Homo sapiens: one gene and its partners. The protein of the gene in region 4 purifies or fractionates together with the protein of the main gene of each other region. This does not show direct contact. Each region holds a gene or a part of one and is shown on either strand. Other genes may lie near its edges. The genes, in order: ARK2N, YTHDC2, UTP11, ZNF276, MTCL3, TENT4B and SPATS2.

Region 1 (3,958 bases), on a different chromosome or scaffold from region 4:
ATTCCCTGAAGCTCCTGCTACCCTTTGCTAATCCTTTTAGACTCTGTAAAACTTACCAATGACATTAACGTGCTTTGCATCTGATTTCTTATGGTACATTCTGATTCTTCTTATGGTATTTTTTTTTAGAAGGTAGAGGAGAAAAATACCCAAATACAGCATCAGGTCCACTTCATCTCGGATGTTAAACAGTTGTTGCTACATACTCTTTATACAGAGACCAGCTATGAAAGACGGCACTTTCCTCTCGGATTTGCAAGTGCCTGTAGCCTCAGAGGCCACATAACTTTTCATATTCTTCCCAACAGGTTTCTATGTTCACCCGTTATTTGACTAAACCAGAAAAAAAGGCGAGGGAGAGAGATTTTTCCCACTGAACTCTTAATACCTTCAGATGCCCAGAACACCTCATGGTGGGTATCTATCTGAAATGCCTCTGTCTCAAAGGAGACATTTTGCAAAGAGTTATTAATTATTGCAACAAGGAGAACAACTAGGTCACCTTAGTAGTATTTATAAACACAAAGGGACATGTCAATTATCTGTGCTGTGGGAAGTCAACAGGAGCAAACTCAAGAAAGAAGGCAGAAGACTTAAAATAAAAGAAAATATAATTTTAATACTTCTGTCTTCTATTTTTAAGGACAAGTTTTTAAATGCACATGCCCTACTAGGTGCCAATAAGGACCTGACTGATATGTGTGCGAATGCCCTAAGATGGGAGTGCCAATGGGGTGGGCAGATAGTGGTCAAGTCTAGATATTAATTTCATTATACAGAAAAATAAATACAAGATTCAAAAACTGAAACCCATTTTGCCTGGCAATTAAAATATTATTCTAAAAGGAAGGCAGAGTTTCCTAAGATTAAAAGTCACCAAGTAAAATAAAGTTGTCTAATAAAATTCATCATTCTATATTCCTACTGAGGGAAAGAAGAAATTCTTTTCTCTGTGATGTTATTTTCCTAAGTGACTTCTTTTAATTAAAAAAAGGGGGGAAGAGGAGGGAATTTTCCATGAGTTTGAATCCTACAAATGCCACAAACAGCTTCTGAAGCTGAAGCTATGACAATGAACTTCCATGTCACAAAGAGGATGAGGAAGTGGAAGGGAACAGTGCAGAGGAAACACAGTGACATTGTATTACAGTAGGTATTTACGCCTGCTATCCTCATCCAAGGTAAGGTCAACAACTTCTGCTGGTGAAGCCCAAGTCTGCTGGGGAGTCACAGCAGTCCATGACTGTGTTTGCCTGGTGCTAACATACTGCGTGCCCGAGCCATGCTTCCATGAAGAAACACTCTGAATCACACCACCTCGAGGATGAACACACCTGCAATTGAGATGAAGAACAAAAGCATGGTTAATTCCACCACAGGAAAAACAGAAGACAATATGACCTCAGTTGTACTTATCAACATTTTTACTAAGATAAACCTAGTATGCAAGTTCATAAAACCCACAATCAATATCCTTCCCTCCATCTCTGTCTCCCTCTCTCCCTACCCCACCACACCCCACTTGGTCCCTCTCTCAGTTTAGCCTTAAAAAGGCCAAGGGTCTTATCTCAGCCAGAAACTCCTGAGTTGTGTCACTGACCATGGGTGACAGGATGTTTCTCTGGACTCATTTACACCTCTGGGATCTTCATGATAGGGCAACACATAAATCCAGAACAAAGTTAAGATGCCCAAACAATCTTAGTCTGAACAAATCAAACAGTAAGAAAAATAGTTAAAACTTGTTCTTAAAATAAGCTTTATAATTGGTAATAATGCCTTCAAAGACAGTGACAGTAATACCCTTTCACAGATTAAATTTCTAAAAGTCTGTAAGTAATAGATCATGAATAAAGGATCAATTTCCCTTGTCCTGAAGGTCACAACAGAAGCACTTGGTTCATTCAACAGAATCGCTTATAATTTGGTTCCGTGAAAGTAACACAGCTGAATCTTCAGTTTAGATCCACTAAAAGGGTTCTATCGGAGGGAGAGAACTGCCTTGTTAGCAAGTCACACCAAGAGTTCACTGAAATAAAATTGTTTCAGAAACACTGACAGTTTGAATTCCACAGTCCAGTCAAATGATAGAATTGTGAACCTCCAGGCCAAAACACTAAGTTCTGACTCAAATGAGAGGAAGGCAGGCAACTCATGTGATCAATGCTATGTCCTCTCATCTAAACTTCCTGACCAGCCCTCAGGTAGCTTATGTGAGAAGTAACAAGTGGCATGAGTCTAGTCACTAAACTACCACAGTGGCTCCTGAGCAGCTGTTTGACAATCTGTAAGCAACAAATAATGCTGGGCCACTTGAGAATTTCAGCTTTGGTTTAATGCTACCTACACCACCAGATTCAAAAGAACATTAGGGTAACAATGGACACGATTCAGTTGCAAAACTGCCCCAAGGACCCTTAAACTCCTGCAAACATGCCCTACTCCTACAAAGGCTTAATCTGATAACTTCTCCCTTACTAAGAAAAATTCCTAAGAACAGATCTCTCAGGGCCAGAGCAGAGGGCAGAACGCAAATTTGCTACAGTACCAGAAGCCCGTCATCTGTCCAGAGATGGGCTATGTAGTTACTAACCCAGAGGCTACTACCTTTTCAAAGATTAGCTAGAGAAATAAATAGGGACATTAAAATAAGGGACATAAAGCCCAATGTCTAATTCACATCTGTTCAACCCATTATATAAATTCATATTAAGTGACCATGTAGTCATGGAAAAATGTCAGCCAAAGGAGTCCATTCAACATTTATAGAAATGGTTTTGATGACTGAAGGCCAACGGAACACTACCTTTACTAAGCAGTTTCACATATATTATCTCATTGGACAATTCTGACAGACCTATGAGGTAAGCATGGAATTTACTATCCTCACTCTACAGAGAGGGAAACTGAGGCTTAAACAGGTTACATGATTTGCTCAGAGTCACAATGCTTGAAAGTGATAGGCCAAGGAAGACAGGTCTGATTTTGGGTCCAATGCTTTCCATATCATGTTGTTGCTTTACAGATGTGTGTATTAAATCGGGTGCAGCAAAACACAACAAGAATCATCAGAGTACAAAAATAGACCCAAACTAACAATTTAGAAGTATAAAGTTACTTGACAATTCAAAAGCTCACCTGTATAAGCACTAATTGAAGTAAAGCTGGCTAGAAACCTGGTAAGAATTCAGGCAACGAGTGGCAAAGAGAGTCAATGTAATCTTTGGCAGAATTTCTAAAAATATCTCCGAAGTAAAAGAAGTATATAGTCCCAATTGTTTATCTGTATTGCTCACTAAGTAATCATACAATGTAACGTCAAGCAGTGGCTTTTTAAAAAATCTGATCTAATCTGTTTATTATACAGAAGAAAAAACCTAGGCCAAAAGACAACCATCCAGGCTCTTAAACAAGTTAAGCATAGAACTGGAGTAAAATCAGGTCTCCACTCGAGGGTTTATTTTCCACTGAATAACAATGCCTTCTTCAGGCTATACCTGAAGTTACTACATCATGTTTGACTGAAAGAAGCACTGCCTGGTTCCCAGGGCCATTCAATAAGCGGCAAAGAAGAGTTTAGAAAGTGTCTGGCATAGGAAAAGAACTAGGAGAGTGAGAGGTTTAGAGACCTTATTTCCTACTGAGGAATGGCTGAAGGAGAGAGAATAGGAGACAGGGCACTTCAACTATCTAAAAATAGATCACTTCTGAAGTTATGTTACAAATGGTTCCAGTTACCAAAAACCAGCTTAGGCTACTTTAAACAATGAAGAGAATTTATTAGTAGGACACTGGGCACCTCAAAGAGCCTAAGATGATGGAACAACCCCTAACCCTCTCTATTTCTCCTACTTCAAAATTTTAGATTATCTGGAGAATGTGATGATACTATCTTCGGTCAAAAGCTTTCCTAACTCTAATTATTAATAGTTGTACATGGAATTCCCAAAGGGAGAAT
Region 2 (4,229 bases), on a different chromosome or scaffold from region 4:
CATCCACTTTCAGGTCAAGGTCTATCCTTTCCCTTGTGGTAAATACCAGGCCAGAGATGAATCAGCACCAAACCAAAGGCCCTCATCCAAATATGAGAATGCTGACTCCTTCTCATTTAAAGAAAAAAAAAAAAAAGAGATTCTTTTATTTTCAATAATCCTTTATTCTTGGGAAAACCCAGTTTAAATGTGACCTAATTTTTTATTTTATTTAGCATATTACATCTATGATCATAAGTAAGATAAACCCATAATTTTCATTTCTAATATCTTCTTTATCTGAGTTAGGTAGCGAAGTTATACTAGTTTCATAAAAAACAGGAGGTGTCCCTCTCTTTGATTCTCCAGGAAAAACTGAAGTAAAAATAAAATTATGTTTATTGTGCAGCCATAAAAAAAGAGTAAGTTCATGTCCTTTGCGGGGACATCGATGAAGCTGGAAACCATCATCCTCAGCAAACTAACACAGGAACAGAAAACCAAACACTACATGTTCTCACTCATAACTGGCAGTTGAAAAATGAGAACACATGGACATAGCGGGGGAACATCACACACAGGGGCCTGTCAGGGATTAGGGGGAAAGGAAAGGAAGAGCATTAGGACTAATATCTAATGCATGCAGGGCTTAAAACCTAGCTGATGAGTTGATAGGTGCAGCAAACCACCAGGGCACATGTATACCTATGTAACAAACCTGCACATTCAGCACATGTATCCCAGAACTTAAAGTAAAATAAAATTAAAAAGAAAAGAAATTATGTGTATTGACTCTTTGATTTAAATTACCTCTGAATGGCATTTGTGTGAGTAAATTTCTAATCTTGATTAAATTTATATAATGAATTTTTTAAAAAACCATTGTTAGGATTAAATGATAATCCATTTAAAGCACCTAGCACAAGTATACAACAACACTTAGTAAATGTTTGCTCCTGCCTCCTCAAGGAATGCAGCCCTGCCGATATCTTGATTTTAAGTCCATGGGACCTCTGTTGTTGGACTTCTGACCTCCAGAACTGTACTTTGGTACTCTATTTGGTACCTGTTAGGCAGTGACCTTAGCAGTCACAGAAGAAACTTGTACTTGGAAAATCTACTTTCATATACTTCATATTTTCCCATTCTACAGATTTTTAACAAAGTTCATTTTGTAAAATCCATTTTTGTCTAACTTGGACTGAGAAAAATCGAGATGGGATTTTGTTTTCATTATAAACAAGCCAAAGACTTAGAAAAGTGAGCCTTTAGGACTAAAACACACTGACCTCAGCGTGACTTTAAACACAACCTTTAAAGTTGAGGAAAAAAAGTAAATAATGATGTGAAATTTTTGGTATGTGAAACCTGACTAGAATTTCAAAGAAAACTTTAGGATATATTAAAAATCACAAAATGGGGCTTTTACTCCAAGAATGTTTTCACTAAAAGATGAGCAATTACAAAAAATAATCAAAACAGCGCCAAGGCACACTAGTTCAGGCCTATAATCCCAATACTTTGGGCGGCCTAGGCAGGAGGATCACTTGAGCCCAGGAGTTTGAGACCAGGCTGGGCAACATAGCAAGACCCCATCTCTAAAAAAAAAAAAATCTTAAATTAGCCAGGCATGGTGGTGCATGCCTGTGGTCCTATCTACTTGCGAGGAAAGCCTGAGCCTAGGCGTTTGAGGCCATACTGAGCTATGATTGTGCCACTGTACTCCAGCCTGGACAACAGAGGAAGACTCTGTCTCTAAAAAATAAAAATAATCAAAGCAGGTAAAATTCAATTATTTAGAAGATGAAAAACAAAATCCATCACAAATGACATAATTTTGAAAGAAAGAGTATCAAAAAGAAAAAATTGACCAGAAAAAAATTGAAAGCTATCACACAATAAGTCTGGAATCTATTTTTTAAAACTTATATAAAAAGCCCAAATAAGAGAATGAGTCAATGAGAGACTGGAAATAGAATCCAGGCTTTCTGCACTTTACACCAGGTGGCCTCTCAAATAGGTACTAAGAAACTATAATATCAGACACCTACAGATACACACACACACACACACACACACACACACACACACACACACACGAAAACTAACTTACTGAATCAATAAAGTTAACGATAGATTATTTTTTTAAAAATCGGCTGGGCCCAGTGGCTCATGTCTGTAATCTTAGTACTTTGGGAGGCCAATGAGGGAGGATTGCTTGAGCCCAGTAGTTCAAGACCATCCTGAGCAACATAATGAGATGCTGTCCTCTACAAAAAATAGAAAAATTAGTTGGGTGTGGTAGCATATGCCTGTAGTACCAGCTACTCAAGAGGCTGAGGTGAGAGGATTGATTGGGCCTGGGAGATGGAGGCTGCAGTGAGCAGCGAGCCGTCATCATTCCACTGCACTAAAGCCTGGGTGACAGAGCAAGACCTTGTCTCCAAAAAAAAAAAAAAACAAAAAAACGCCAGGTGCAGTGGCTCACGCCTGTAATCCCAGCACTTTGGGAGGCCAAGGCGGGCAGATCACGAGGTCAGGAGATCTAGACAATCCTGGCTAACACAGTGAAACCCCATCTCTACTGAAAATACAAAAAATTAGCCGGGCGTGGTGGTGGGCGCCTGTAGTCCTAGCTACTTGGGAGGCTGAGGCAGGAGAATGGCGTGAACCCGGGAGGTGGAGCTTGCAGTGAGCCGAGATTGTACCACTGCACTCCAGCCTGGGTGACAGAGCAAGACTCCATCTCAAAAAAATAAAATAAAATAAAATAAAGTCAAAGGGTGAACAGAAAATTTCATGGATAAGTCAGGTACAAATTCTCATACAAATGAAAAGAAAGGATTTGAGAAGTAGATTCAAAGTGATTTCTTTCTTTTTGTGAAAAGAAGAAAAGGCATTTGAAAATCACAAGGACCACTAAGAAAATATAGTACAAAGTTTACTCAAAGATGAAAAAAAGAGAGAAGGAGCTAGGGTATTTCGTAAGAAGGTTTGAAAGCATTAAGGTTATAGGTATTAGGGACTGGATAAATAGGCAGGATTGCCTTGCTTCCCTTAGCATCTCTTTCCTTTTTCTTCTTTCTCTGGCTCTTCAATGTTTCCGCATTCCCCATTTTTGTCTCCATAACTTCCTTCTTGAATTCTCCTTCCCAAGATATCTATTCATTCCAGATCAGCTCTTACATGACTATGCTACTGAAGAGAAGGACAGGAAGTCTACTCTAATGGACTGCTTTTCTAAGTTAGCTGTTTAGAATGCAAGACCCATGTAACCATAGAAATGATGTAGCTACAGAACTGTACATTTATAACATGTGTTTCCAAGCACAGGCCCAAAACCTCTTACCTGCAACTAGTAAACCCAAACAGTGCCAAAAACTGGAAACTTTTAAGTTTGCAGTAACCTCATTTGACATCAAATGTGATCACGTGATTAAACTGACATGAGGTTATTAATAGTCTCAGTGTGAATATTCATAGAATTTCCAGCAAAAATATAAATGTGACTAAAGGTGATGGCCATATTTTATTAGGTAGATTATACAACATATTGCAAATATACCCAAATACCTTTCTAAAGTCTAAAAAATCTGAATCTCAAATATATTTAGCCCAAGTGTTTCTGGATAAAGTATTGTGGCACTGAACTATATTTTTATTTTCAGGTGCAGTATTTTTACCTACCTAGTGGACTATAAGATGGGCACATTCAGGAATCTAACCACTGTTCCAGCACTGGCCTTAGTGATGTTCAAAACGCACATTCACCTAAACTAAATCCCGTGTCTCAGTAATTTATCACTGTAGTAGGCAGTCATATGCAAGACATTCCTACATCAGCTGCTTTCACTTTGGGACCATCTGAATATTTATTAATATATTTACTTAATAAAGTTTTGTTTTCCCTCTTCCTAACCTAAAAACATACCGGTAAGCTGAAATTTTATCCTTTTCTTCCCTCTATGTCAGTAGTTCTCAACCTGAGCAATTTTGCTCTCCAGAGGACATTTGGCAACCTCTAGAAGCATCTCTGGTTGTCACAACTGGGGTTAGGAGTGTTAGTGGCATGTAGTAGTAATGGCTATGGATGCTGTTAAACACCCTACAGTACACAAAACAGAATAAAGAATTATCCAGTCCAAAATGTCAATAGCACCAACAGTGAGAAAGCTTCCTTTACATTGATCCCACCATCCTTATTAACAAAATGAAATAGCGCCACAGAATTTTAGAGTTTTTCAATTTGG
Region 3 (4,805 bases), on a different chromosome or scaffold from region 4:
CATATTTCGTTTAATCATCAAAACAGTCCTGTGGGTATAGTATTATTATTACCTCAGTTTTACAGATGGGGAGATGGAGGCTCAGTGAATCTAACTTTACCTTGACTGGGGTGGCATCAGAACACACCTCATGGGTCATTACCTTGTACTGCCTCTGATTCGCATATCGTCAACCAGCCATTCCCTTAGGGATGTGAGGGACTCAGAACTTTATAGCTATTGTCATTGGGTGATTTCCTTCTATGCTCTTTACAGATATGACTCCTCAGTTCAACTGTGAGCTCTTGACAGCAATATGAGGCAAGAAGTGTATGTTATTATTATCCTCATTTTATGCTTGAGAAAAATGATGCTCATTAAAGTCAAGAAACCTGCCAAAAGTCACACAGCCTGTAAGTGAATGGCAGAGCCAGTTATGGTTTTAAGGTCTCTTGTCTCTCTATAGAATATTTTTTCCTGTACACTGTTGTAGAGGAGCAAAAAATGGACAGGTCAGATGAATGAAGTTTATATAGTGTCCCAAGTTACAGAAAAGAATAGTGGCATGGGGCCTCTGGGGGCTGGTGGCAACACATATTATGGGAAGGTGAGAGGAGGAAATGTCCTGTTATGGAGATAAAATCTCTCAGGAAGTAATAGTTGTCAGCCCTCTTCTTGACACAGATACCTCACTAAAAATGTAGATTTCCTTTGTAGGTGATAAATTTATTTCTACAAAAGGAAGGACAGCTTTTCAGAGCAACTCCTGTATCTGCAGTTTCTCAGCATAACCAGCTTTAAGAAACAAGCCAGAGAAATATATATTTTGGGGTGGCATATTCTGGCCTCCCACAGTCATATTTTGGAGTGGTGAGTCCTGAGCCCCAACAGTGTTTTTTTTTTTTTTTTTTTTTTTTTTGAGACGGAGTCTCACTCTATTGCCCAGGCTGGAGTGCAATGGCGCCATCTCGACTCACTGCAACCTCTGCCTCCCAGGTTCAAGTGATTCTCCTGCCTCAGCCTCCCGAGTAGCTGGGATTACAGGCGCGCACCACCAAGCACAGCTAATTTTTGTATTTTTTTTAAGTAGAGACGGGGTTTCACCATGTTGGGCAGGCTCCTGACCTCGTGATCCGCCTGCCTTGGCCTCCCAAAGTGCTGGGATTACAGGCGTGAGCCACCGCGCCCAGCCAGCCCCAAAACTGTTAAATCCGTACTGCTCTAGCTTTAAACATACCTTCTAGATACAGCAACCCGTGCCGAGCTGTAAGTGACTGCACATGCGCACACGCTAAGCCCAGCTCAGACGGAGGCCAGTGCCAGCCACGTGTTCCCAGGTGCCCACGCGGGCCAAGCGCGAAGGCGAGATCTGGGTAGCGTGGACAGGCGCTAGCGAATAAGAACTGGCTCTTATAGAGTCACGAGACTATATCTGGGAAACTACACTTCCCAGAAGCAGCCTGCGGTGACTGCCTCTGTTAAATGACGTACTTCCTGAAAGCCGGCTCCGGATAGGTTGCTTAGAGGAAGTAGGCGGTTCTAAACCGCCGGCGGCTAGGCCTATTTCCGGTAGGAATCAGTGGACTTGGCGGCAGAGGCAGTGCGGATCCGGCGTTCTCCACTGATCTTTTCCAAGGCTGTACAGACATGGCGGCGGCTTTTCGGAAGGCGGCTAAGTCCCGGCAGCGGGAACACAGAGAGCGAAGCCAGGTAGGACCATACAGGCCCCACAAGTGCTGGCCTTTGTCGCCATGTGTTACCCTTGCCCCAACCCTGTCGCCACCGTGGGATCCGGGTCCAAACTGTATAGTATATAAATGCACGTAAATGTATGTTAATGACGCTGGCGTGGCTGGGGCGGAGCTTCGTGGGAACGAGTGGAGGGGATTTGTCGTTTCCGTTCTAGGAAAAGCAGGGGTGCCCCCCTTTCCTTGGGGATATAAAACCTGCTCTGGAAGATTTCAGTGTGGTGATTGAGTAAGATGTCTGTCAAGTGCCTGGTCTCTTCTGAGGAGTTGAGGTCAGAGCTCATGTAGGCAACAACTGCTGGGCTGAAATTGGATCCCACGTCTAATGGGCAGCTCCGCCTGCTGCATATGGGGGCCCTGACCGAAGAGACTGTGGTTACTAATGTGGTATCATCATCACGCTGGGCTTGTGGTTCATGAAGATCTGCCATATGTGCTTTTTGTTTAAGCCTTACCCCTTAATGTTGGCCTTTTCCATTCCCATTATACAGATGAGGAAACTGAGGTCCAGAGTGGTGACTTGTCCAGTTACAAACACCAGATTCAGGCAGAGTAAACAGTTCTAGGATTTCTATGGTGGGTGTGTCTGTGTAGGGAGGTTGAGTAGAAATAAGCTTATATGCAGAATCAGTTGATACACTGTCAGGAATCCCGTGCTTAATATCTGATTCAGAAAGGCCCTTAGACATACATATGTGCTCCAACTTAGTTTTACAGATGAGGAAGACAGGGGAAAGAGTTGTGCAGCTGACTGATGGGATAGAACTAAGGCCTCTTAACTACAGTTCAGTCTTCCTGCTTAATAGCATATATCAAACTTTTTTTTTTTGAGATGGAGTCTCACTCTGTTGCCCAGGTTGGAGTGCAGTGGCACGATCTCGCCTCACTACAACCTCCGCCTCCCAGGTTCAAGCGGTTCTCCTGCCTCAGCCTCTCGAGTAGCTGGGACTGCAGGTGCACACTACCATGCCCTGCTAATTTTTGTATTTTTAGTAGAGACGGGGTTTTGTCAGATTGGCCAGGCTGGTCTCGAACTCCTGACCTCTGGTGATCCACCCGCCTTGGCCTCCCAAAGTGCTGGGATTACAGGCGTGAGCCCCTGCACCCGGCCAAAACTATCACCTTTTGAGCACTTACTATATGCTAGGCACAGCCCTGCATGTTTTTACAATTGTCTCATGTAATCCTACAACATCCCTCTGAAGTGGATGTTACCCTCATTCCTCATTTTACAAATGAGGAATCTGGTGCTTAAAGAGATTGAATAGTATATCCAAAGTCACAGTTGTAAGTAGTGGAATTGGATTAGCAGAGAAGACAGAGGGCTTTCAGAGCTGGCTGTGGACATGGCATGGCCATGGCTGAGTAGGAACAGATGGCCTGTGTAGAAGAGGTGAGAAGAAGACCATCCTGAAAAGGTGGGTAAACCGTTGACACAAACGTTCCATATTTGGGTAGTTTGGACTTTATCCTGCAGATCCTTCAGTAGGGCAGCAGGGGAGCTACTGAAGATATTTTGTATGGAGGGTGTATGTGTTATTACGTAAACTATTTCAGATACAATACCAGGTTTCCTTTTGTAATGCGATTGTACATTCAGGTGGACATGAGAGATTTCAAGATTTCTGCCTCACCTCATGTTGTTGCTTTTTTGACCCTTTAGCTTGCTTTCTCTACTCTGTTAACCTCCCTTTGCTGTAATTAAAGTTAAAATTATTAGGGGAGGTTTGGTATTATTTTACTTATGTTTTTGAGATAGTGTCTCCCTCTGTTGCCAAGGCTGGAGTGAGTGGGGCAATCACGGCTCACTTCAGGCTCGACCCCCTCACTCAAGCCATTCTTTTGCCTCAGCTTCCTGAGTAGCTGGGACCACAGGCGTGTACTGTGACACCCAGCTAATTTTATTTTATTTTTTTAATTTGTAGAGATGAGGTCTCACTGTGTTGCCCAGGCTGGTCTCGAACTCCTGGGCTCAAGTGATCTGCCCACCTCAGCTTACCAAAGTGCTAGGATTGCAAGTGTGAGCCTGGCCTTAAATAGTTATTTATTGCATCACTTGAAGGATAAAAGATGAGAAAGATGACTGTTAAAAATCCTACCCAAATTATTATACAAGTTTTTTTTTGTTTGTTTTTTTGAGGCGGAGTCTCGCCCTGTTGCCCAGGCTGGAGTGCGATGGTGTGATCTTGGCCCACTGCAACCTCCGCCTCCCGTGTTCAAGCAATTCTCCCAGCTCAGCCTCTTGAGTAGCTGGGATTACAGGCACCTGCCATCATGCCCGGCTAATTTTTGTATTTTTGTAGAGGTGGAGTTTCACCAGGTTGGCCAGGCTTGTCTTGAACTCCTGACCTCAGATGCCCCACCCACCGTGGCCTCCCAAAGTGCTGGGATTACAGCATGAGCCACTGCACCCGGCCTATTATACAAGTTTAAACACTGGAGAAGTGTATGCATTTCCCAAAATGTTAAGATTATTCGCAACAGAAGAGGACTCAGTCTACTGTGATGGCCCTAGGGAGAATGGGTTCTAGTTTTGGCTCTGCTACTTATTAGTTCTGTGTTCTTGGGCATATCATTCTCTAAACCTCATTCCCTTTATGGAAAACTGGGGTAACAATAGTGCCTGTTTCACCTTCTTTCCAAGATTGTGGTGGGGATTAAATGAAATTGTGTAAGGAGCATAGCACATTGCAAGACCCTGACATATACTAAGTGCTCAACAAATGGTAGTATGTAGAAGGATCATACCAAGATTTAATCCTTATACCTTCCATGCTCTCCAAGTCTACGTCAGAGAAAGTACTTTCTGTCATACTTTTTTCTCATACTGAGTACCACAAGTATAATAATAATAGTAAACTCATGCTGGAAAGCTGCTATGTGTCAAGCCATGTGCAGGCATTACCATTAATAGAAGCTCCTTGAATCCTCAGTATAACCCGGAGAAGCAGGTACTATTTTCATGTTACAGTCAGGAAATAGCAGCTCAGAGAAGTTAAGTGACATGCCCAAGGTCACAGATTGTTCAGAGGTAAAGCTTGGATTTGAACCCACATCTCCAGACTCTAAATTTAGCTC
Region 4 (4,229 bases):
TGGTCATTTTATTTTTTAATTTTTTTTTGAGACGGAGTCCTGCTCTGTTGCCCAGGCTGGAGTGCAGTGGCACCATCTTGGCTCACCACAACCTCTGCCTCCCAGGTTCAATCAATTCTCCCGCCTCAGCCTCCCAAGTAGCTGGGATTACAGGCACCCGCAACCATGCCTGGCTAATTTTTGTAATTTTTGGTAGAGACGGGGTTTCACCATGTTGGCCAGGGTGATCTCTAACTCCTGACCTCAAGTGATCTCAGCCTTCCAAAGTGCAGAGATTACAGGTGTGAGCACTGCACCTGGCCCAAACAAGTGTATCTTAAAAGGCAAGGCAGAAGGCATGAAGGCACACCAGCTCTGGGGAGCTGCCCACGTGGACAGGCGGGAGGCACGTGTGGTTCTGCCTTTTCACATGTGTGTAGGTCGTGTCATTAAGACCGGAGGCGGATGGGGGAATTATGACTGAGGGTGCTGTCTCTGTGCCCGTCTTATTTTTCACAATTTCTATAATGCACAAGTTACTTTTATAATCCAACAAGGATATGTTTTCAAAATGACAAACTTGGCCGGGCGTGGTGGCTCACACCTGTAATCCCAGCACTTTGGGAGGCTGAGGTGGGTGGATCACCTGAGGTCAGCAGTTCAAGACCAGCCTGGCCAACATGGTAAAACCTGGTCTCTACTAAAAATACAAAAATTATCTGGGTGTGGTGGCACACGCCTGTAGGCACAGCTACTTGGGAGGCGGAGGTGGAGGTTGCAGTGAGCCGAGATCACACCACTGCACTCCAGCCTGGGCAACAGTGAGACACTGTCTCAAAAAAAAAACTTGTTTGAACCACGTGGACCCACATATCCATGGTCAGGGACTCGAATCCCTGGTATTCAGAGGGCTGCCTTTTCCTAAGTGCAGGTTCTGTAGGGTCTTTGCAGGGCTAACTTCGGGACTTCAGTATGAGCAGATTTTGGTAAGGGGTGGGGGGGGGCCTGGAACCAGCTGAGGACAACTGTATATTGATCCTTACACACACAGTTTTCCTTGGTTTTGAACTTATTACAGAATAAGAATTATTTATTCTTACTTGAATTTACTGAAGTATTTTTTCATTAGGATTGCTTTTCACTGCTGGGTCATCTCCCGACATGCGGGTTGTTATTTTTTGGGTTCTCCGACATCTCTCCTGATGGCAGCACTTCCTTGGGTTTGGTCCTTCAGACTCTGCATCTGTCCGGTCACTGATGGTCACAACCAGCAGTTCCTTAAAAACCTGAAATTGGGCCGGGTGCAGTGGCTCATGCCTGTAATCGCAGCACTTTGGAGGCTAAGGCAGTAGGATTGCTTGAGGCCAGGATTTTGACACCAGCCTGGGCAACATAGTGAGGCCGTCTTTACCAAAAACTTTTTTTTTAATTTATTGATGGAAACAGTCTCACTCTTATCACCATGGCTGGAGTGCAGTGGCGCGATCTTGGCTCACTGTAACCTCCACCTCCCTAGTTCAAGCAATTCTCCTGTCTCAGCCTCCTGAGTAGCTGGGATTACAGGCATCTGCCACCACGCCGGGGGTGTTTTTTTTTGTTTGTTTGTTTGTTTTTTTGACTGAGTCTTGCTCTTGTCGCCCAGGCTGGGGTGCAGTGGCACAATCTCAGCTCACTGCAAGCTCCTCTTCCTGGGGTAAAGCCATTCTCCTGCCTCAGCCTCCCAAATAGCTGGGACTACAGGTGCTGGCCACCACACCCAACTAATTTTTCGTATTTTCAGTACAGACGGGGTTTCACCACGTTAGTGAGGCTGGTCTCAATCTCCTGACCTTGTGATCCACCTGCCTCGGCCTCCCGAAGTGCTGGGATTATAAGCGTGAGCCATGACGCCTGGGTAATTTTTCTATTTTTAGTAGAGAGGCAGGTTTTGCTATGTTGGCCAGGCTGGTCTCGAGTTCCTGACCTCAGGTGATTTGCCTGCCTTGGCCTCCCAAAGTGCTGGGATTACAGGCATGAGCCACCGTGCCCAGCCCCCAATTTTTTTTTTTTTTTCCGGGACAGTCTGTGTCGCCCAGCCTGGAGTGCAGCTGTGCAATCTCAGCTCACTGCAACCTCCACCTCCTGGGTTCATGCAATTCTGCTGCCTCAGCCTCCCGAGTAGCTGGGACTACAGGTGTGTGCCACCACACCTGGCTAATTTTTGTATTTTTAGTAGAGACAGGGTTTTACCATATTGATTGGGCTGGGGCTGGTCTTGAACTGACTTCATGATCCGCCTGCCTTGGCCTTCCAAAGTGCTGGGATTGAGCACTTTGTGTAAGCCACTGCACCGGCCCCCCAAATTTTTTAAATTACCTGGGTGTGGTGGTGCACACCTGTGGTCCCAGCTACTTGAGAGGTTGAGGCAGGAGGATCACTTAAGCCTGGGAGTTCCAGGCTATAGTGAGCCATGATTGTACCATTGCACTTCAACCTGGGCAACAGAGCAAGACCCTGTCTCCAAAAAAAAAAAAAAAAAAAGAATCCCTTGAACCTGGGAGGTGGAGTTTCCAGTGAGCTGAGATTGGGCTGTTGCACTCCAGCCTGGGCAACAGAGCAAGACTCAAGTCTCAAAAAAAAAGAACAGCGTAGAGTAAAATGCCAAGATAGGGTTTCCCTTCGAAGAGAAAAGTCTGTCTTGTGAAGCGTTTCAGGGCTTGACAGATGTGGAGGCAGCACAGGGTGAGTGGGTCTGCATGTCCACATGTGGCATTTGTGGACTAGCAAGTGAGATCTCTTTGTTCAAGGGTGTGAGAAAGATTTCCAGAGCCAGTACAGCAATGCATACCCCCAGACCCTGGGTATGGACCCCTCTCATATGGAGATGAATTCTAGAGAACAGCCATAGCTGTGACAATCAGTATTCTATACAACCTTAGTGATACGGCTTCCTTTAAGAATTTGTAGGCCAGGCACGGTGGCTCACACATGTAATCCCAGCACTTTGGGAGACCGAGGCAGGCAGATCACAAGGTCAGGAATTCAAGACCAGCCTGGCCAATATGGTGTAAACCCTGTCTCTACTAAAAATACAAAAATCAGCTGGGCGTGGTGGGGGGCGCCTGTAATCCCAGCTACTTGGCAGGCTGAGGCACAAGAATCGCTTGAGCCTGGGAGGCGCAGGTTGCAGTGAGCTGAGATCACGCCACCGCACTGCAGCCTGGGTAACAGAGCGAAACTCCATCTCAAAAAAAAAAAAAGACAAGAATCTGTGGTTAAGGAAATAGCTTTCTGAGGTTTCTTTAAAAACCATCCTGAAATGCACACAGCTGATGAAGCCACGTGACAGTGTATAAAGCAGTTTAAAGATCTTAATAAACGAGGCCCTCATAGGCCCCTTGCTTGGGCCCACTGCATGGTGAACCATGTGCAGAAATGTCTTCCCAGCTGTGATGGTTTCACATTGTCATCGTCGTCCCCCCGGGAGGTTGGAGCATCAGGGGCCTGGACTCACTGGACTCTCCCCTCTCAGAGGTGCGGAACTATATCTGTGACGAATGTGGACAAACCTTCAAGCAGCGGAAGCACCTTCTCGTCCACCAAATGCGACATTCGGGAGCCAAGCCTTTGCAGTAAGTGTGAGTCAGGACCCCCTCCCAGGGCTGTGGCCCTCGCACCTTCTTATCTGCCTCTGTCCCCCAGGTGTGAGGTCTGTGGGTTCCAGTGCAGGCAGCGGGCATCCCTCAAGTACCACATGACCAAACACAAGGCTGAGACTGAGCTGGACTTTGCCTGTGACCAGTGTGGCCGGCGGTTTGAGAAGGCCCACAACCTCAATGTACACATGTCCATGGTGCACCCGCTGACACAGACCCAGGACAAGGCCCTGCCCCTGGAGGCGGAACCACCACCTGGGCCACCGAGCCCCTCTGTGACCACAGAGGGCCAGGCGGTGAAGCCCGAACCCACCTGAGGACGGCAGTGAGGATGAGCACCTCTAGCAGCCTGGACTCCGCAGTGGCTGTGTCAGCCTCACCCTTCGTGTGCACCCGCATGGGAGGGTCGGAGGGTGCTGCCCGCCCTTGGTGCTGGAGGCGGGCTTGGTGTCCGGCTCAAGTAGCCTTCCTCTGCTCTGGGACCAGTGGTTTATTTTCCCGCAAACGCTGAGTGACTCGGGGCCGGACAGTTCATAAATAATTGATTCCTTTCCCCACTAAAGCAGTCGAGGAGATTTGTAATCCACTTTTTAGTGCAACAAGAGCTCCATGTTA
Region 5 (4,229 bases), on a different chromosome or scaffold from region 4:
TGGTCTTTAAATGGCCACCATACCTGGCCAAAGCAGCTCAGTCCAATTCATCCGGTGTGCCTCTACAAATCAGGATGGAGGAAAAATGCTGGTTTTCCCTGTTCTGGAATAGTTATTACTATTTCTCTGAATTAGTGTTGCCTTCAAGCTACCGTATAGACTCCTTCCCCAGTCCTGAGATTCTCCACTATACAACTGAGAGTGATTTTCTCTGGAAATAATGATCATGTTATTTCAACTTATGGTAAAAAAAAAAAAGTGGCTTTCATTTGTTCCTTTCCAGGGGGTTGTAGACACAAAACCATGTCTCTTTACCACTGGTTTCTACATTTACCAGTAGTTATCCATCAGTTCTGTTTTATTTAATTAAATTAATTTTTTTTATTGAGACAGAGTCTCACTCTGTCGCCTAGGCTGGAGGGCAGTGGTGTAATCTTGGCTCACTGCAACCTCCCTCTCCCCGGGTTCAAGTGATTCTCCTGCTTCAGCCTCCGGAGTGGCTGGGATTACAGGAGTGCGCCACCACACCAGGCTAATTTTTGTATTTTTAGTATACACGGGTTTCGCCATGTTGGCCAGGCTGATCTCGAACTCCTGACCTCCTGCCCTCTTTGGCCTCTGGGATTACAGGCATGAGCCACAGTGCCCTGCCATCAATTCTGTTTTAGTTTTATTCTTTCTTTTTTTTGAGACAGGGTTTCACTCTTGCCCAGGCTGGAGTGCAGTAGTGCAATCACCATTCACTGCAGCCTCGACCTGCCTGGGCTCAGGTGATCCTCCCACATCAGCCTCCGGAGTAGCTTGGATTACAGGTGCGTGCCACCACACCCAGCTAATTTTTCATATGTTTTGGAGAGACGGATCTTGCCTTGCTGACCAGGCTGGACTCGAACTCCTGAGCTCAAGCAATCCACCCTCCTCGGCCTCCTAGTCTAGTCATTTTTTTTAAATCCTAAACTCAATATGGATCTTGGCTCAAAAACCACATATCAGCAGTTAAATATTCCTATCCAGGACCATCTTGCAGTTCATCTGCTAGCAGAGTAACAGAGAAAAATATTGACCTTCTAAAATAATAACGTGCCTCAAAATCCGTTACTCTTTCCACAACAATTGAGGGTAATGGTGTTCAGTTTTCCTTTTAAACAAAACAGAGGAAGAAATGGTGACTATGTGATGGAGTCACAAAAACCTCAGCCCTGCAGAAGGACAGTGTGGAAGAACTGGTGGGCCGAGGCCGGGGGTTTCAGGCCCCAGCGCGGCCCTGAGCGGGGGCTTCCCTCAAGCGGGGCGCGGCAGTCCGGGCGCCGAGACGCCCCCCAGGGACGCGGCTCCACGGGCCAGCCTGGCCACCGCCGTGGCTCGCAATAGGCAGAACTGTACCTGACTCACGGAAATGGGCTCCTCGGCGCCGCGGTCGTCCGCAGACTTGGGCACCTCGAGGCGGTCGATGAAGGTCTGCAGCTCCTTGCGGAAGGCCTTCATCTGAGCGTTGATGCGGTAGAGCAGCTCGTGCTCCCGGATGCGGCTGCCGTCGTCCTCCTCGTCCATGAGTCCGAACAGGTCCCCGTTGGCCACGTAGATGCGCGCCTCGGTGATGATGGTGCTCGTGTCGGCGATGAGCCGGTCGATGGTCTTGCCCAGGCGCTCGGCCTCCGAGCGGATGTCCTTCATCTGCTGCCGATCGGAGAAGCTCTTGGGCCAGGGCCCGGGCGCCGGGTAGAAGGAGCGAGTGGGCGTGAGGCAGCGGATGTTGCGCACCTCCTCCGAGTCGCTCTCGCCGCCGATGGGCCCTTCGCGCTTGCGGTGCGGAGGCCGCGAGTCGTCGTCGCTCTCCTTCTTGCCCGCGTCGCTCTCGGCGTCGCTGTCGCGGGGGCTGCCGCGGATGCCCAGGTGCGAGGCCAGGTCGTAGCGCTGCATGTTGGACATAAGCACGCGGTTCTCGTACTGCAGCTGCATGACCTTGCCGCTGAGCTCGTTGATCTGCAGGCGCGCCGCCTTCAGCTCCTCCTGCAGGGCCTCGGTCTTGGCGTTGTCGTGGTGCCGCGCGCTGTCGTGGCCGCCGGACTTGTACTTGTACTTGTTGAGCTCCGCCGTGATGCGCTTGTTCTGCTCCTCCAGGTCGGCCACGTTCCTCCGCAGCAGCTCCGTCTCGTCTTCCACCAGCTGCAGGTGCTGCCGCAGCTCCGACAGGGATTCGCTCTGCTCCCTCATGAGCGGGTTGGCCGAGCCGTTGAAGTCATCGCCCCTAAGGTCGTCCAGTTCCGCCTTCAGGCCTCTGTTCTCCACCTCCAGTTCGACGATTTTCCTGCCCAGGATGTTGGCTTCTTCCTCCACCAGCCTTAGCCGTAGCTTGAGCTCGGCCTCCCTAGTGCTGGGAGGGCCTCCGGCTTCTCCTTTGGGCAAAGGACTGTCCAGATCCCCATAAAAGGATCTGTACTTCTGGAGCTCGTGTTCAAATCTGTCCTTTTCTTTATCAATCTTGGCCATTTTCTTTCTCATCAAAGCGGCTTCTTCCTTAACAAACTGCAGCTGGCACTTCAGATCTTCATTGTCCTCCTCATTTGGGGGAAAAGAGGGAAAAGGATAGGAGATCATTTTTATGTAAATCAAGGAAACAACCAAAAGAGGACACCTGGATAAATAATTTTTCTTGCAATCCAGATTTAATGACAGAGAGAAACAGAAGCAGATACTGTGTATTTTCTTCAGATCACTTAAATTCTCTGGCAAATTAAAGATTAGAACAATGTTACATCCTGGAAGCAAAAAGGAAAAGGAATATGAAAAGAGAATAACTGTGGCATCACTATTCAGAGATTATTATATGTTGTAACTGCATACAACTGTTTGGTGATCATTTCAGCAGTGTTTCTTTTGTTTCATTATTGCAGTAATAAATATAAAATCTGTTCAACGAGCATGTGGTTCATATGCATTTGCGGCCACTTTTTTGTCACTTACACTGAGCCAAGTGCTGAAAAGTGTTTTACAAATATGAACCTAATTTAATATTCAGAGTAAACTTAGGAGTAGTTATTACAGTTCCTGGTTTAAAGATGTTCAGTAACCGTTCGAAGGTTACACAGCTAATGAATAGCAAAGGACAAAGGTGAAATTTGAATCCAGTTCTGTCTGAAACAAATGCTCAGGCTCTTGATTTCTGTGTCACTTAGGAAATAATCTGCCCCCTGTTTTTATTCAAAGGAAAATTGTTTTAGAGGCCTGTAAGTCAGCAAAGTTTGACATTGGAATGGTCCATCCAAGGAGAAACTGTTAAGTTTTCCATCTAGATCACATTTAAAATAGGTTGTACTCCCATCAGTCTGAAATGGATAAAGCCTGGCAAAAGAATAGTGGAACTATAGAAGTTCTTCTCACACATTCTTACGACAACCTCAGAGCCCAATCATTAACTAAATTGAAAAGTACAAAAGGAGGAATGGAAATCTTTCTCTGAGGGATATTACTGAAGCATGTTATTATGTCTAAGGTCATTTCTCCCAAGGACAATTTCTCAAAATTCTCTTTTAAGTGTGTACTTTGAGCCAATCATATAACTTCTGTGAACTTTGGTTTCTTCATTAAAAAAACAAAAATAAAAATTCTTTCCTTATCCAGTACTCGGTCATCTGTGTTTGAGATGCATTCTGGTAAAGAAGGAGCAACCACTGGTGAGAAGGTGAGGAGAATAATGAGCTTCTGCCAGAGATGCTCAGTAAATACCACACAGAGCCTTTGAGATGGAAGAGATGGAGAACAGGGCACAGGTCTTCTGTCTTCCTATCTACTAATGGGAATATGAAGAATATGAAGGGTTTGAGAGCTGCTGGGTGTGCAGAGCCTGAACATTACATTCCATATAGTATTAAATACTTATATCAGTCCTTCAAGATAGGTGATGCTATCTCCCCTTTACCGATAGGGGAGATTTATTAACATTGCAGTGCACAAGTTAATAAGTGACAGAGCACAGTCTATATTCTGGCTGAGTCCCAAACTCATATTCCTTCCACTGCACATGCTGCCTCTAGAAAAGAAGCATAAAAGAAAAAAAAATAGAGCAATGTGGTAAAATCAAAGAAGTAAGATGTGTTGCCTTGTACACTTTCCTCTAGGAGAGGTTTAGAAGAAAGAAGAGAAGGACTACCAGAAGAGATGAGAGAGCCTTAGCAGCATCCAGAGAGGAGAAGAGGGCATGTCATGGAAAGCTTTGATGGAAGATTTTT
Region 6 (4,229 bases), about 40 Mb from region 4:
GCGACAGAGCGAGACTCCGTCTCAAAAAACAAAACAAAACAACAACAACAAAAAATTCAACCAGAAAGCTGAAAAAAAATTGAGTGAAAGAAGCCTTACACAAGACTATATTCTATGTGGTTCCATTTGTATGAAATTCTGAAACAGGCAAAACTAACTATGGTGTTAAAAAGTCATAACAGCTGGGCTCACGCCTGTAATCCCAGCACTTTGGGAGGCTGAGGCGGGTGGATCTCTTGAGGTCAGGAATTCGAGACCAGCCTGGCCAACATGGTGAAACCCCATCTCTACTAAAAATACAAAAAATTAGCTGGGTGTGGTGGCACATGCCTGTAATCCTAGATACTCAGGAGGCTGAGGCAGGAGAATCGCTTGAACCCAGGAGGCGAAGGTTGAGGTGAGTGAAGATCATGCCATTACATTCCAGCCTGGGTGACAGAGCAAGACTCCGTCTCAAAAAAAAGAAAAGAAAAGAAAAGAAAAACGTTAAAGGCCAGGTGTGGTGGCTCATGCCTGTAATCCCAGCAATTTAGGAGGTTGAGGCGGGTGGATCACAAGATCAGGAGTTCAGGACCAGCCTGACCAACATGGTGAAACCCCGTCTCTACTAAAAATACAAAAAATTAGCTGGGTATGGTGGTACGCACCTGTAATCCCAGCTACTCAGGAGGTTGAGGCAGGAGAATCGTTTGAACATGGGAGGCGGAGGTTGCAGTGAGCCGAGATCATACCACTGCACTCCAGCCTGGGTGACAGAGGGAGATCCCGTCTCAAAAAAAAAAAAAAGGAAAAAACAATAAACAAATACTGGAGTCTGGCTACAAGGATGCACAAGCTACAGTACTCTAGGGGAACTGATGTCTGTAATCTACTTTGAAATGGATCAAAGAATAAGATGAATTAATGGATAGAGTGATGGATAGACAGGTATGACATAAGCAAGTAAAAGGTTAATAGCAGAATCTACTGGTGAGTACATGAATGCTCACTAAAATTTGTTCACTTTTACTATATGCTTGAACTTTTTCATAACAAAATGTTGAGAAAATGTACAAGCATGAAAGTTATTAAAATATCCCAGTAACATGTAAGCAAAGGAAGTAGCCTTAGCCTTCGAGACAGTGTTAACCCCAGCAAGAGAACGTGCATGCATCTGAGTTCAGAAGAGCCGAGGCTTTCATACTTACTACATCACTAGAGCTGGACTGTGTGGCAGAAGAGGACGACACTGGACCTGATGAAGAGTTTGAAGAGTGTTTACTAAGAGATTCCGAGGTTTTACTTCTACATTTTCCAAGGGCTTCATTTTCTTCAGATAGATTATTATTACATTTATCTAACTGCTGAGTATCTACTATCAAGGTAACACCATTTCCTGAAAGAGTGGCAAAAGATTGGAAAACGTTTCTTCCCATTAAACGCACACAACACAGAAAAGCCTCTAATACTCAGTCAATCGACCAAGGAAAATATCTTACCATTGCATGAAGGCTCAGGTCTATTCTTCAAGCCCCACTGCTTTGATATCCAATCTCTATATGTGGCAACTTCATCTGTTACTCTAATTATTCTACCTAGTATGCTGCATGTGTTTAAAAAGAAAGGGAGAGGGAGGGAATAACATTAATTTGAAGATAAGAAGCCACAACTAATTTTGACACAATGGGCTGGTTATAGATGAACTTTTACCTTTCTGTTTCATTGTTGGGATAGTACTTTGCTATTGGTGATACAGCATGACTCAAAACAACGTAGGCATAATCAAAGGCCTGCTTCACTTGCATGGCCCCATATGAACTCCTTCCAACATCGTTACCTTTAAAAGAAATATACGTAACATAGTAAGCCTGACTGTGCTTAATATGCACTAAATGTTGATGACTCTCTTCCAGGAGAGCAAGGGCCATAGTTATCCCACCAGAGTTGTGCCTGGAAGCTGAGCTGTGAGCTGTCCCCAAAGCTCCCCAGTCTCTGAATATGTGAATCATGCAGTTGGTACTTCATTATGGTGTATCAGTTGCCGGAATGTATTCTGGCCCATCAAGAATTATCCCATTCCATACATAAACAGTTATGCAAACAAAAGAAATAGTGCCCTGTTCACTCCTAAGAGTGAAACCCCAAGTTACATCAGAAATACTTCTATATTTTTTGGGTTTATATTAGCTATATATCTATTTCTCACTCTAAATTATGAGCCCCTAAAAAGCAAGGATCGTCTTGCTGAAAAGTCTTCGTGTCCTTTGGCCCAATACTTTTGAACAGAGCAGGCTCCCAATCAATGTAATGTTTCCTCAATGAATAAACACATAGAACTATTAATGTTTATAAGGCAGCTCAATAAGCCAGAAAATGGTTCCTAGGCAACTACTCTATCTCTTCACCCCCTTTCCTTACTCATTTTCAAAGTTTACACATTAAAGCAAATGACTAAAAGCACTTCCACTGAAGTCCAATAACGCAGAATCTATTTTACAATTATATCAAGAAAAAATATTGCTCACAAAAATCAGGACACAAGCAAGCAAACAGAACTTCAGAAAAGCATGGAAGGAATTTACTTTCTGCTTACTTTCAAGCCCACATGAAGCTGGAAAAAGCACAAAGAGACATGCAAAATCAAACAGGAAAGGAGAAATTCAAAAAGAAAATACATTGTCTCCTTGCACCCTTCTGCTCATGAATTCAAAGATATATTACTATGCTTGCTGCCTCTCAGGACTTCAGAATCATCTCATTAAAGCCTCATTAATTGCTGACAATTGGTTGTAATCAAGGCAATAAGGACCCAAGAAGGAGAAACAGCCACCAAACATGAACCCATCCAAATAAGTGAATGCCTTTTCTACTATGCTTTTAGGGTTAAACAGATTCTACTCCCTACTTATCTGGAAGTCTCCAAGGTGTTTTTCTATTGTCTGTGTCTGTTTATTTTAGTATGTTTGCTCATGAAATATTTCGATGAAAAAAGAATAACAATTAGAAGTTGTTCCTTCATTTTTCATCTAAAGAGAATTTAAAGTATAATAAGGTGACTGACAGTGCCCTCTCTTTGAATGCCCACAAATTTACCTAATTTCAATACCTGGTTGTAAAGGATCTTCGATATAAAGCATTGATGGCCTGTAGCCATCTAGCATATTTTTCTGTACTTCATCTTTGGCCACATATGAACCACCATCCTTTATCCGGATGCCAGTCTTTAAATAATTGAAGTGTCGTCCATATAATTCAAAAAATTCTATTAAGAGAACACCATAGTTTGTATTGGGGATGCAAGCATCTTCCCTGGGATGTAACTAAAAGCAGAAAAGAAGAAATTATATTGGATTTTTGCTAAATTATCAAGGAGAGGGGGAATAAATTATATTCTAACTTCTACAAGCAATATTATTATAATTTTGGTTTAGCATAGCAGTCAGTTGATAATGGGCTAACAGCAGGTTATACTGTTGTTACACACAACACTAAAGTCCCATGGTGCGGGAATGGCGGGAGACTGTTTGTAAGGCTGAATTTTACGGCTGCACCAGGCTGCCAACCAGGGCTGGCTTGGCCCAACACATCAGCAAAGTCGTTCTGACTCACGAATAGACTCAGGCAGTTGGCAACCCTGTGCCACATAAACATACCCACTTACAATACTAAGACTCTAATTCGCTTACCCAAATAGCTGGTCTCAATTCCAACTAAACTTACAAGATTTAGCTGCTTAGAAGACATTCTTATTGTTGGCATTTATACTATTTATGCTTATGGAAACCAGGCCGTACATTTTGCATGTTAAAATTTGCAGTGAAAAGTCTCAAAAATACTAGAATGTATGGGATTTAAAACCAAAAATATTCTTTCATAGGAATTTAAAAATACATATTTGCTAAATGATAAAATGTACCCAGTTTAAAGGGAAAAGCCGTTAAGTAATCAAGGAAAGCAATGCAATTACAGGTTGATTTCGATTTTTTCCAAAATGTTTCCCAGCTGATTGATCACTTTTGCTTTTAGTGTGCACTAGCATGCTATACCCATATGACTTACCTGAAGGAAACTGACTGCCATTAAAAAGAGACTATAAGAACCAATTCCACCTGTAAATACTTCATTAAGGTCCCTCTGCAATAGGAATTGTTTCAATACTAAAACCAAGTATGGCAATACAGGATATTTCTGAAAAAGAAAATTGTATTTTCAATGAATTCCTGTATCAGCAACAGATCTAAGCATTAAGA
Region 7 (4,229 bases), on a different chromosome or scaffold from region 4:
ACTGATATCAAATGCAGCTTAAATTACCAGCTCTCCAATTCAGCAAAGGCTTGTTTCATTTTCTTAATGGAGGCATCCATCTCTTCTTTAACTACAACTCGATACCGTGCAAGAGACACTGTGCAGCGCTGGAGGTCTTTTACAGATTTTTCAATATTGGAACCTTGGGGAAAAAAACCGAAATATTAAAAAAAAAAAAAGAATAATTATATAGGTAACTTGAAAGTCGGATCTGAACACCAAAGCCAAATGTCATGTAGACTAAGAATCTTTCCTAAATAACCACCTTCCCCAATGAGAAAAACATGTTTTTATAGATTTTTGGAAAAAAAAGGATCCTGGTCAAGATGGAATAATAATAATTGGATTTATTCTTCTATCTTAAACAACTAAAAACATACAAAGACAAAATATATGAAACAATGGTTTTCAGACAATGTGTAACAGGTAGTACTTTTCCCGAGACAACAGAAACAAATGAAGTGAGGCCTATGATTGCCCCAACTTGCTGCCTCAATAGTTTCTAGGCTACAATGCAGGGAGGAGAAATCCTCAACAGCCTGGTGGACCCCCTGAATTGAAGGGACAAAGTTGGGAATTTGGAAAGGCCAAGATGGCTGAAATTCTGGGGCAGAGTATTGGTGAGGAAAGAGCTACACACATGAGAGAGCTGCACGGAGATCCACAGAGGATTCTGAGTGTGGACCAGTGCATGAGTATAAAGAAACTACCCAAGACTGGAAAGACAACAGGCAAAAAAAAAACAAAACAAAACCAAAGAACCACCAAAAAACAAAACAAAACAAAACAAAACAAAACAAAACAAAACAAAACAAAACAACCAGGCAGAACAATCCCCAGAGCTCACCAGGCCAGGGACAGTTTGTGCTCACACCAGCCAGAGTGGAAAAACCTCACAATATATGGCAGGCAGAGTAGTTGGAAGGATACTGCCTCAGCAACAGGGCAAAATTATTTCTAGACTAAAGGCTGCTCTAGTCCCACCTAAAAAAGCTTAAAAGAAACAGAAAAATATGACCTATAAGTAAGAGAAAAAATCAATCACAGAGGCAGATGCGGAAATGACACAGATGATAGAATTGAGTAGAAAAGGACATCAAACAGCTATTATAATTAGATACTATAGGGCCAGGTGTGGTGGCTCACGCCTGTAATCCCAGCACTTTGGGAGGCCAAGATGGGTGGATCACCTGAGGCCAGGAGTTCAAGACCAGCCTGGCCAGCATGGTGAAACCCTGTCTCTACTAAAAATACAAAATTAGCTGGGTGTGGTGGCACGCACCTGTAATCCCAGCTACTCGGGAGGCTGAGGCAGGAGAATCACTGGGAGGCGGAGGTTTCAGTGAGCTGAAATCACACCATTGCACTCCAGCCTGGGTGACAAGAGTGAAACTCCATCTCAAAAAAAAAAAAAAAAAAAATAGATACCATATGTTCAAGAAGGTAGAGGAAAGCATAAGCGTGGTAAGAAGAGATATGGAAGATATCTTAAAAGACCCCAGTTGAACTTCTAGAGACAAATAAAACAATGCCAGAGACATATACTGCATAGAATTAACAGCAGAATAGAAACTGTTAACAAAAGATGAATACAGTTGAAGACAGCAGTTTTACAAACTATCCAAAATGAAATGAAACACACAGAGAAAAAAGACTTTAAAAAAGGTACCAAATTTTCAAAATTCCTTAAGTTACAGGATTTAATAGAATATAATTCACCATGTGGACATTACAAAATTAAAATGTTCTGTCTGTATAGTACACTTCAAAGCACTGTATATATGAGGAAGCCAGCTTTGTAGAAAAGGATGGACTGCATTTACCTACTCAACACATTTTAACCAATTTCCAAGAGTTCTATTTACCTTTCTATATTCACCAATCCCCAAATTACATATATAATTGATTGCTGGAAACATGGATCTAAAAAGTTTGTAACTATGCCAAGATATGCATTTCCAATTTTTTTATTTAAATTCTTCCTCATCTCAACTTGATTTTATTTTTTAGAATCCACCTAAAAGCTTTCAAGCCTTGTGCGCATATATATATATATATATATATATTTTTTTTTTTTTTGGCTTGATTGGATAGTCTCAAACCTGCTGATCTGCAACAGGCTGAGGGCTACCAGAACAATGAAAAAGGGGAGCTTACCTAATTAAAATTTGGCTCATGTGTAATAAATAATTCCATAAAGAGCTACTGATTACAAGTGTCCTTTATATTTCTATGTTTCATTTGTTTAGTGGAGTGGACCACCATGCTTAGATGTATGAAACTCAGATATAGGAAACACAGGGTATTATCTCTGTCTGCTGAATTACTGGCTGTTTGTTTAAATGATTATTGTAGTTTTCTTTTTTTTTTAAGCAAAGAGCTATCACCAGTCAACGCCACATACTTAAGAGAAAATGACCTTACTTTTTCTAAGCTAGAGTCTGTCAGAGGACTCTAGCTCAGTAAGAGCATGAAGTTATGAAGAGGAGTGAAAATATTTCTTTAAAATGTCAATGTTGGCTGGGCGCAGTGGCTCACGCCTGTAATTCCAGCACTTTGGGAGGCCGAGACAGGCGGATCACGAGGTCAGGAGATCGAGACCATCCTGGCTAACACGGCGAAACCCCATCTCTACTAAAAATACAAAAAAATAGCCGGGCATGGTGGCACTCGCCTGTAGTCCCAGCTACTTGGTAGGCTGAGGCAGGAGAATGGCATGAACCCGGGAGGCGGAGCTTGCAGTGAGCCAAGACTGCGCCACTGCACTCCAGCCTGGGGGACAAAGTGAGACTCAGTCTCGGGGGAAAAAAAAAAAAAAAGTCAATGTCAGAGAAGGTAGAGCTTTTACTTGTTGGGTCAACCAGAAGATAAAAATGAAAGAAATAGCACCAAAACGTTGCAATAAAGCAAATAAAGAAACAGGTTAATGTTAGCAGGTAAATCATTCTGGCAGTAGAGTTTGACTTTAATTCACAAAACGTGCCGTCGTAAGTAGATTGTACAGCATTTAAACTACTTTCAGACTCCAACTGTGTACACAAAGGTTAGGGGAAGGGCTGAGTAGTCAGTCACTGTCTGGAAAATGGAAAAATATTAACTGATGCCCTTCTGAAACCTTATTTATGGCAACAGAGATAATTTGCCCTCTTTAGCCAAAAACACAGATTTTTCATTTTCTCTCACAGGTGGGCCTCTGACTTACTTAGCTTTTTACTGGTGGCGAGGGGAACATCTTCCATCCCCATATTTGAAAACTGAGTTTCTGTGGTAGGTCTTGAGAGAGATTTGGCAGCATTCCTGGGTTGTTGAGAATTGTGAATAGAGTGCATAGTCAAAGACTTGGTCTCAAAATCAGAGACACCATTCTGCAGCATGGATCCTGTCCAAGAAAGAGGACTGTACTTTAGAGCACAATTTAGGAGTAAACCAGTCATTCTTAAGTACACAAAGAAAACAGGTAAAAATGTTTGAGGCAAAACCATGCCTCTTAAAAGACTGTAAACAAAATCAACTGAAACAATAGAACAAAGATCAGAATCAGCTGGGTATGGCTATCGGCAGCTTCGGGCTTAGTCTTAAGTGGCGTCCGGAATGAAGAGAAGAGTCTGTGGCAACACATCTTTAGATAGGGAGCTCAATCCCTGTGGCTCTGTGGCTTCTTTGTAGCTTGGTAGTTTCTATGTAAGTCTGGCACAAGGAATCAAAGAAAGTCAGTATCACCAACTTCTGCAAGCCTCCATGTTAAGAAAAAAAGAGTTTTAAACTCTCTCGAGGAAAGAAGAATTTAAAAAGCTTTAGGGGCCAGGCATAGTGGCTCACGCCAGTAATCCCAGGTATTCAGGAAGCTGAGGCAGAAGGATCACTTGAGCACAGGAGTTTAAGACCAGCTTGGGCAACAGAGAGAGACCAGGTCTCTCAAAACAAACAAACAAACAAACAAACAACAACGCTCTAGGGGATAGAAGTGTAATAAGTTAGGAAGAGTTAGGAAATGAGAGGAAAGCTAGTTCAGAAAAAAATGGAAACCACTGGCTATTGTTGGTTTGAGTCAGTGCAATGTTTTTCTCTAAGTCTTTTTTTGTGTATGTGTGTATACTAATCAATAAAAGAACACCTAAACAGCACAGCATAAATCTTATATTGGCATTACACTTCTAAAGCCAGGAGCAGCAGGGCAGGGGAACTGGATTAACAAGTAATGTTTTAAA

The links.
Region 1: the proteins of ZNF276 (region 4) and ARK2N purify together in Homo sapiens (co-immunoprecipitation; one large-scale study listed by IntAct). This does not show direct contact.
Region 2: the proteins of ZNF276 (region 4) and YTHDC2 purify together in Homo sapiens (co-immunoprecipitation; one large-scale study listed by IntAct). This does not show direct contact.
Region 3: the proteins of ZNF276 (region 4) and UTP11 purify together in Homo sapiens (co-immunoprecipitation; one large-scale study listed by IntAct). This does not show direct contact.
Region 5: the proteins of ZNF276 (region 4) and MTCL3 purify together in Homo sapiens (affinity purification with mass spectrometry; one large-scale study listed by BioGRID and IntAct). This does not show direct contact.
Region 6: the proteins of ZNF276 (region 4) and TENT4B purify together in Homo sapiens (co-immunoprecipitation; one large-scale study listed by IntAct). This does not show direct contact.
Region 7: the proteins of ZNF276 (region 4) and SPATS2 purify together in Homo sapiens (co-immunoprecipitation; one large-scale study listed by IntAct). This does not show direct contact.

The regions. Positions count from the first base shown.
Region 1 is NC_000018.10:46,260,305-46,264,262, reverse strand, and holds part of ARK2N (protein ARK2N), read right to left. Parts: intron 1,335-3,958; coding exon 1,145-1,334; 3' UTR 1-1,144. UniProt on the Homo sapiens protein: AMPK substrate important for exercise capacity and skeletal muscle function.
Region 2 is NC_000005.10:113,516,406-113,520,634, reverse strand, and holds part of YTHDC2 (3'-5' RNA helicase YTHDC2), read right to left. Parts: intron 1-4,229. UniProt on the Homo sapiens protein: 3'-5' RNA helicase that plays a key role in the male and female germline by promoting transition from mitotic to meiotic divisions in stem cells.
Region 3 is NC_000001.11:38,011,177-38,015,981, forward strand, and holds the start of UTP11 (probable U3 small nucleolar RNA-associated protein 11), read left to right. Parts: upstream 1-1,557; 5' UTR 1,558-1,626; coding exon 1,627-1,689; intron 1,690-4,805. UniProt on the Homo sapiens protein: Part of the small subunit (SSU) processome, first precursor of the small eukaryotic ribosomal subunit.
Region 4 is NC_000016.10:89,734,316-89,738,544, forward strand, and holds part of ZNF276 (zinc finger protein 276), read left to right. Parts: intron 1-3,233; exon of another isoform or gene 3,234-3,405; coding exon of another isoform or gene 3,406-3,490; coding exon 3,491-3,590; exon of another isoform or gene 3,591-3,660; coding exon 3,661-3,931; 3' UTR 3,932-4,229. UniProt on the Homo sapiens protein: May be involved in transcriptional regulation.
Region 5 is NC_000006.12:127,473,910-127,478,138, forward strand, and holds part of MTCL3 (microtubule cross-linking factor 3 precursor), read right to left. Parts: intron 2,560-4,229; coding exon 1,384-2,559; intron 1-1,383.
Region 6 is NC_000016.10:50,222,244-50,226,472, reverse strand, and holds part of TENT4B (terminal nucleotidyltransferase 4B), read right to left. Parts: intron 4,168-4,229; coding exon 4,039-4,167; intron 3,300-4,038; coding exon 3,086-3,299; intron 1,817-3,085; coding exon 1,690-1,816; intron 1,583-1,689; coding exon 1,479-1,582; intron 1,376-1,478; coding exon 1,188-1,375; intron 1-1,187. UniProt on the Homo sapiens protein: Terminal nucleotidyltransferase that catalyzes preferentially the transfer of ATP and GTP on RNA 3' poly(A) tail creating a heterogeneous 3' poly(A) tail leading to mRNAs stabilization by protecting mRNAs from active deadenylation.
Region 7 is NC_000012.12:49,496,004-49,500,232, reverse strand, and holds part of SPATS2 (spermatogenesis-associated serine-rich protein 2), read right to left. Parts: intron 3,401-4,229; coding exon 3,224-3,400; intron 164-3,223; coding exon 28-163; intron 1-27.